2 linked regions of the Homo sapiens genome follow. The protein of the gene in region 2 purifies or fractionates together with the protein of the main gene of each other region. This does not show direct contact. Each region holds a gene or a part of one and is shown on either strand. Other genes may lie near its edges.

The links.
Region 1: the proteins of C1QTNF3 (region 2) and CTHRC1 purify together in Homo sapiens (affinity purification with mass spectrometry; one large-scale study listed by BioGRID and IntAct). This does not show direct contact.

The regions. Positions count from the first base shown.
Region 1 is NC_000008.11:103,374,448-103,378,272, reverse strand, and holds part of CTHRC1 (collagen triple helix repeat-containing protein 1 isoform 1 precursor), read right to left. Parts: intron 2,536-3,825; coding exon 2,314-2,535; intron 247-2,313; coding exon 30-246; intron 1-29. UniProt on the Homo sapiens protein: May act as a negative regulator of collagen matrix deposition.
Region 2 is NC_000005.10:34,018,946-34,022,770, forward strand, and holds part of C1QTNF3 (complement C1q tumor necrosis factor-related protein 3 isoform b precursor), read right to left. Parts: intron 1,798-3,825; coding exon 1,638-1,797; 3' UTR 1-1,637.

The sequences.
Region 1 (3,825 bases), on a different chromosome or scaffold from region 2:
ACATCTTGCAATGTCACAATTTTACATACCAGAAGAAGTGCGATGAATATTAATTGTTGAATTCATTTCAGGGCTTCCTTGGTCCAAATAAATTATAGCTTCAATGGGAAGAGGTCCTGAACATTCAGCTCCATTGAATGTGAAATACCAACGCTGACAGCATGCATTTCTGCATTTTAGCCGAAGTGAGCCACTGAACAAAACTCTTAGAGCACTATTTGAACGCATCTTTGTAAATGTACACTCCTGTCACAAACATAGAAATGGGATTTAATTAACATTTTCTATTTTAATTAAAAAGAGCTTTTGAGACTGGTGAATTTTACTTAACTATCCTTTTCCCCAAAATGTATTTAAAAAGTTTAACTTGGCCGGGTGTGGTGGCTCATACCTGTAATCCCAGCATTTTGGGAGGCCGAGGGGGGCAGATTACTTGAGGCCAGGGGTTAGAGACAAGCCTGGCCAACATGGCGAAACCCATCTCTACTAAAAATACAAAAAATTTGCTGGGTGTGGTGGCGCACGCCTGTAATCCCAGTTACTCGGGAGGCTGAGACGTGAGAATCGCTTGAACCCAAGAGGTGGAGGTTGCAGTAAGCCGAAATTGTGCCACTGCACTTTAGCCTGGGCAAAAAAGTGAGACTCTGTCTCAAAAAAATTAAAATAAACAAAAATAAAGCTTAACTTTTATAGAGGGAGGGAGATTTTCTGCAAGCTAGGTAAGAGATTTTGATATAGGAACTCTAAGAAAATCAAATTGCAGCTTTCTCAGAACTTTTCGCCCCATTGAGGGTATCTTTCAGTTTTATCAAAAAAGGCTAGCCTTCAGTACTTTTGATAAAATCAATTTATATATTTCCTCTTTTTTTTGCATTCAAAAAATATTTACTGAGCCCCAACTATGTGCTAAATGGTACAGATAGAGCAGTTAACAAACCAGAATCCCTACCTTCATGGAACTTACATTCTAGACTAGTTCTGTCCATTCGTATTGACTCTTGACGTGTTTCTTTTCGAGCAACAGCAAACAGTATGAGGGAGTAAAGGATAGGCAGGGTTTTTAGTCTTTATCTATATGATGCAATGATAAGGCCCAGGTTTCTTGTTTGCTTATTTTCTCATTGGTCTATGCAAATTTGTCTGTCTATTGGCTCATGGACCTATTATCCTTTACTCATAGAAGGTTACCATACCCATCCTGACCATTGCTAAAAGGAACTTGAAAACATATTAATAATTCAGAACCCACAAGGATAGCTTTTAGAAAGAACTCAGTAACTTTTGATGAACAACTATAAATAAACAACCAGTCTATCAATGTCAGATGTTTAAATAACTAGGGAACATTTTAACAAAATGTTTTCTAGAAACACACATGAACACAGAAAAGGTCATAGTCATCATAACTATGGAAGCTACATGGAAATTCTATCACAAAACAAGACAGTCTCAAACTCTTAATAGAGCAGAAAGAGCTGAGATAAGGAACAGGGATTATACACAGAGTGCATCTTAAAATCTTGGAGTTTTATGAAACAAATTTCTTGTAATTGCTTGATGGTAGCAGTAAAATCATGAAGTAATATGTTGTGAATATGGAACCATGTACAGAGTTCATCAACAGAGAAAAGAGGCTTATAAATAGCATCAACTTCTTCAACTCTCTTCCATCCCAGTGGACTTGCCAATTACTTTTGAAGCAAACACTAATCAAAGTGACTGAAACATTAGTCAAAATACATGACCGGACAGGCTATTTTGAGTAATTCTCTGCCACTCAGCCTTAATGTTGCAGAATAACTTAAAATAATCACTGTAGTACCTCACATCTAACCCATTTCACTTCTCTTAGGCTTAGCAGTTTTAAGCTGGGCATGCTTCCTAAATAAAGACAAACACCAATGGACTTCTGCTTCCAGATCAATGTGGTAATTTCTTGGAAATTTTTTCCCACCTTTATGTCTGAAGCCAGGACAGAATTTCTTAGACTAAATTTAAATTTACTTTAGGATAAGATTGGAAAGTTGCTTACTGTCCAACACAGACACATATGCTCTCTTTTGTTTGCATTTTTAAAAAGTATGTTATTTTAGATACTATGGTTAAAATGATAAGCATTTGTCTTAGAAATATCTCTATGAAATTCTGAAATGTTATAAACTTTTTCATTAGTTTTAAATTAAAAGTCACATGCTACCTACTTCTCTTTTTTAAGTCTTTTAGTTAAAAAAAAATAAAATGTCACCTAAAAATTAACACTAAAATATGAAAACCCTTAAATCTTGCTTCAATTTTAAAATAATTCAAACTTACCGCAATTTTCCCAAGATCTATGCCATAATTCAATGAACTCCATGAACACTGCTTGTAGTTGGGTGTCCAGGACTCCTCAAAGCTTTCCCTCAGACATTCCCCCTTTTCTCCTTTGAATCCATCCCGACCTGGGATCCCAGGTGTACCCGGAATGCCATTGGCCCCAGGGCTCCCGTCTCGACCAGGCACTCCTGCTGGCCCTTGTAAGCACATTCCATTATACTATAATGAGAAAGAAAAGGCAAAGAAAACTCTCACCACTTAAGAGTCAAAGACTCAGTATGATTAGAAATGCATTTATTTTGAGCCCTTGGAGTCAAGAATCCCTTCATACCACATGCCCGTGTTCTAGATGAGTTATTACAGAGAATTCATTTTCAAATTATTTCTAAAATATTGTGATTTCCTTCATATTTTTTAGTGCACAGACTTTACACGCACACACACACACATCAGAGGAGGACAAAATTATTTGCCTGCTCCCTTCTGCTCATTATAGGCATACACAATTTTAAATAGCTGTATTCCAAGGTGGGAATAATTTGATATTCTGCTTTTTTCTTCTAACTCTGTATCTTGCAAAGGGACCTGGATTTTTACAGTTTTATGCAAACATTGCACTATTTTTGGATAGTTTATTTCTACTTTTTTTATTATGAATATTATTGTAATGAAAATATCCATACAGCCTTTTTCTTCTTTTGAATTATTTCCTTAAGATAAATTCCTAGGGACATAATTATAAAATAAAATCTTAAGAGTCAATAATTATCTTGTACTGGCAATAGCTCCAACTTGGGTATGAAAATCCCTGCTTCTCCCTGTTTTTAAGTGGGGGAAGCAGTGCTTGGATAACATTTCTGGCCTCTCATCCCACCCCTCTTCCCCAAGGAGAAGCAGTAAGTGACCCAGTTTCAAGTGACCATTAGTTCTCAATAGGGGACCATCCACAATCTGTCAAACTGTCTGTAAGGACTATGATTTTCTGTTTGTTTGGAGAAGGACATCTTGTAGCATTTAAATGCATGGATTCTAGAGCCAGTTTCTTTGGATTTTGTCCCGGCTCCACCTTACATTAGCTCTGTGAGATAGGGCAAATTACTCAACATTTTGGTGCCTGTTTCCTTATCTGTAAAATGTGGATAATAATAAAGAGTCTTACTTTATAGGGTTTGTATGAGATTTAAGTGAATAATATATAAAATGTGCTTAGAACAATGCCTGGAACACAGTAAACACTGTATGTGTCAGCCATTATTATTCCTATGTTCCCCAGGACCAGTGCAAGGCAGCAACTCTGGGTAAGTGTGTCCACTGCCCTGGGTGGACCTTTCAGGATTTAGACCTGGGGAAGAGAGCATTAGCAAACCCACCAGCCTAGCACACATAAGCCATACATGCCAATGCTGTATGATCAGTGGTAAAGGTGATATCCTGTGCCCCACCTGTCTAATTCCTGTGTCTACACCTGAATTGGTTCAGCTAGGAACAAAGGTGCCGTTTATTAGACAC
Region 2 (3,825 bases):
GTGAAACCCCATCTCTATTAGAAACATTAAAAATTAGCTGGTCCTGGTGGTGGGCGCCTGTAGTCCCAGCTACTCAGGAGGCTGAGGTAGGAGAGTCACTTGAACCCAGGAGGCGGAGGCTGCGGTGAGCTGAGATCATGCCACTGCACTCCAGCCTGGGCAGCAGCGTGAAACTGTCTCAAAAAAAAAAAAGATTTAGAATTTGCAAGTTTGTTTATTAGATGGTACATGTAAATTTCCTATGACACCTACCTACTGTTTCCTTTTTAGCATCTCAGTTTTGGGACACTTGTGAAATCAGTCTTCCAAGTATATTTCTGGTCATGGGTAAATTGTGAAGGCATTGGAAATTATCTGCACCTTTTCCCATCTCTGTTGTGAATCAATTTCCCACACACCTGGGACTTGTTGCCTACAACCAAACCTTGTGTGTCACTAAGGTGAAAACTTAGAATTTAAGCATGAACATTACAAAGACTTAAGGTATGTGATAAAAAACCTCTTTCCTTACAGGTATTCAGATTTTATTTGTGAGCCCTCTAAACATCAATGTCTTAAAGGGTTGACATTATAACAATGGAATAACTGAAAAGCGAAGTTTTCTGAAGTCATATGACCCTGCTGTGTGCCCAAGTCACCTATTCACATGGCTGTTCACATCATCTGCATGAAAATATTTTCACTTTCTGTTAACCATAGTGATTTACAATTCTATGACTATTAAAGTTTATTAAACACAAGTTTAGAAAGTATCTTTAACAAAGGTGTGTTTATTTCCATATATTGCTCATTACATTTTTCTTGCCACAGTTTTATCTAAAGCCAGGTCAAAATCTTTCTCTAAGGTATTTATTAATAGTGTATGTTCTTCAGATATAAAATCCCTCTGGTCAACATGCAACATTTGAATATCTATTGGCACTGTACCTCTATGAGATATTTATGACATTTGTTAATAGTGAACCTCAACCTCCTGACCCCACATCCGAAGTTGGGGGCGATGTGGGGGAACATACACAAAATTACAACCACATTACTGGTCAAGCACTTTATAGCTAAAATCTATTGACTTTAAAATAGCATTGTATGTGAATTCAGAGTTTTAATGTATTTTGTGGATCAAAAGGAAAGGGTCAAAGGCTAAGCTGAACACGGAGGGCACTAAATTAGCTAATAAGGCAGCTAGTGCCCCTGTTCTTGCCCCAGCCCTGTCATATCACTACATCCGATTCTCTCAAATGTTATAAAGAATAATGAACTTAAAACTTCAGGGGTTCCTGAAAACTGGTATTAAATTAAAAGCAGAGTAGTCAAAATTCTTTGCAAATGACTTCTGTGATAGAAAAAAATATTTCCAACCTGCGTCAGAGGAGAATTATCTTTTAGGTGCCAAGGAAAGAGTGATAAAGATGCTGAGTATATTAGTCAAGGTCATCTGAGAAGACTATTTTGTGGTTGATTCTTCTGAGCCCCTGAATTGTCCAACATTATTGGTGTACCTGTAGCGTGAACAACATTGCAACCAATAATTTTTTGAATACAGCAATGTAAAACCCTCAACTTTAATGTTCCTCAGATCGTAACAAATCAGCTCAGCTACAAGTCTTCCCCAAAGTGGAGCTATTCTAGTCATATATTTACTTAGTTTCAAAGAGCAGGAATCCTGCAAAGGTGGAGAAGCGTTGGTGGTCCCCATGGAGAGCGCCATTGCCCATTCGCAGCCAAACCTCATCCCCTTTGGCTAGCTTCAGCACAGCATGATTGCTGGATGTATCTGATTTGCCCTTCATTTCATAGCTGGAAAGAAAAAGAGGAACAAACTACTTAGTTTTTGCCATGAACAACCAGCTCTTCACCAAAGTCTGTGCTCCCCTTCTCTCCTTCCCACAGGTATAATCCTGCGGCTAAGTTCTCTAAACAGCCTGTGAGCAGAAATGACCTATGTACCACTTCTAAAGCTGGCTAGTAACACTCTCACAAAACCCCTCCCTGCTCCTTCTTATGACTGTCTGGAATGTTCATGACAATGACCAGAATGATCTTAGAAGCCATATGTTGAATACTGGGTTCTTGGAGACCATGTGGAAAAGAGCTCTCTCTCTTCTCTGCTCCAACCTGGAACAACCTTGGGCTGTTTGATGAGAAGGAAAGAAAGTTATATTATGTTTGAGCTATTCCACTGGGTTTTTGTTACAGTAATTTAGCTTCCCCTAACCAAGCTAGAATTTGGTACAAAAGGAGGCTGCTCCGCAACCCAAATAAAAATAGGCTTGCACTGGCTCATGGTCAGGCAAGGAGCAATGGGGAAACAAATATCATGGTCTGGGAAAGCAGAAGATCCATGTTACACTGTGCAAAAACATTTGGAAAATGTGATAACTTGGAAGACAGATCTAATGCCTGTAGGGTAAGAAAGGGAAGTGACTGGAAAAAGCCAAAGTACTCTTTGCTGCTTTTAGAAAGATGTTGCTACCAAAGATGAGTTAGGCAAAAACTGACTTGTTTGAAGAAAAGGAAGTAAATAATGTCTACGTGATTAGGGCCTAACAAGGTTAAAAAAGCCAGGTGTCTTTATATCTGGAAGAGCAGTGATAAAGTTGATGTTTTTTCCTTAAGACTACTCATTCAGCAGCCATAAAAAAGAATGAGTTCATGCCCTTTGCAGGGACATGCATGAAGCTGTAAGTCATCATTCTCAGCAAACTAACAAACACAGGAACAGAAAACCAAACACCGCATATTCTCACTCATAAGTGGGAGTTGAACAATGAGAACACATGGACACATGGAGGGGAACATCACACACCAGGACCTGTGGCAGGGTGAGGGGAAAGGGGAGGGAGAGCATTAGGACAAATAACTAACACATGCAGGGTTTGAAACCTAGATGATGAGTTGATAGGTGCAGCAAACCACCATGGCACATGTATACCTGTGTAACAAACCTGCACATTCTGCACATGTATCCTGGAACTTAAAGTAAAATCATAATAAAAAAAGACTACTCATTCAATCAAGTAGACACAGCTGTGGCACAATCTGATGGATTAAAAATATTGCCTTTCTGCCCAAATCGATTGCTTTAGAAGGCCTCAGGGTAACTCCATTAACTTGAGAGAAAGGCATGAAGACAAGGAATAGCAGGCTGAAAACTGTCAAGAAAAGTATATGGAGTGTGGTTTAGTAACACATGTAACTGACTTCACTTAATCTATTTAACAAATGAAGTAAAAGCCAGCTAAGTAAATAGAGTAAAATCGAGTAAAAAACAGAGTAAAAGCCTGCCAAGTAAGTTTCTGAGGAAATGGGTTTGCCAGAGACACAAAACCAGACTCCAGAGGCTTGGGCTGTTTGACTCAGCTTTCAAATTTGCACCAGCAGGAAGTGGGCTGTGAGAGAGCCTCGAGGAGGCCCTGCTCACCTTTCAGATGTGCCACAGAGAAAAGCAGATAAAGAAGACCCTCCTAGAGGACAGAACCAGGAGCCAAAGAGAAAAACAGCCAACAAACCAATCTGATAAAAAGGACTACTCATTGACTGACTCAGGGCTTTGAGCTGGATGCATTATTTGTGCTTCACAGGCTGTCTCCCATAGGGACAGGGAGATGGGGAGACATGTATTGTAAGTGTAGGAAGAAGAATTCAGCAGATATTTGGAAGCCAGTGGGCAGAGAAGGTTAGCTGTTCACCAGAATCCCCTTTCTTCTGTTCCATTGGCACTGCAATTCCATGTCACCTTTGCATTTGTTGGGTGGAAAACAATGTGACTAAGTTCTCTGAACAGAATTCCTGATCCATAAATATTTCCACAAGCTTGCAACAGCA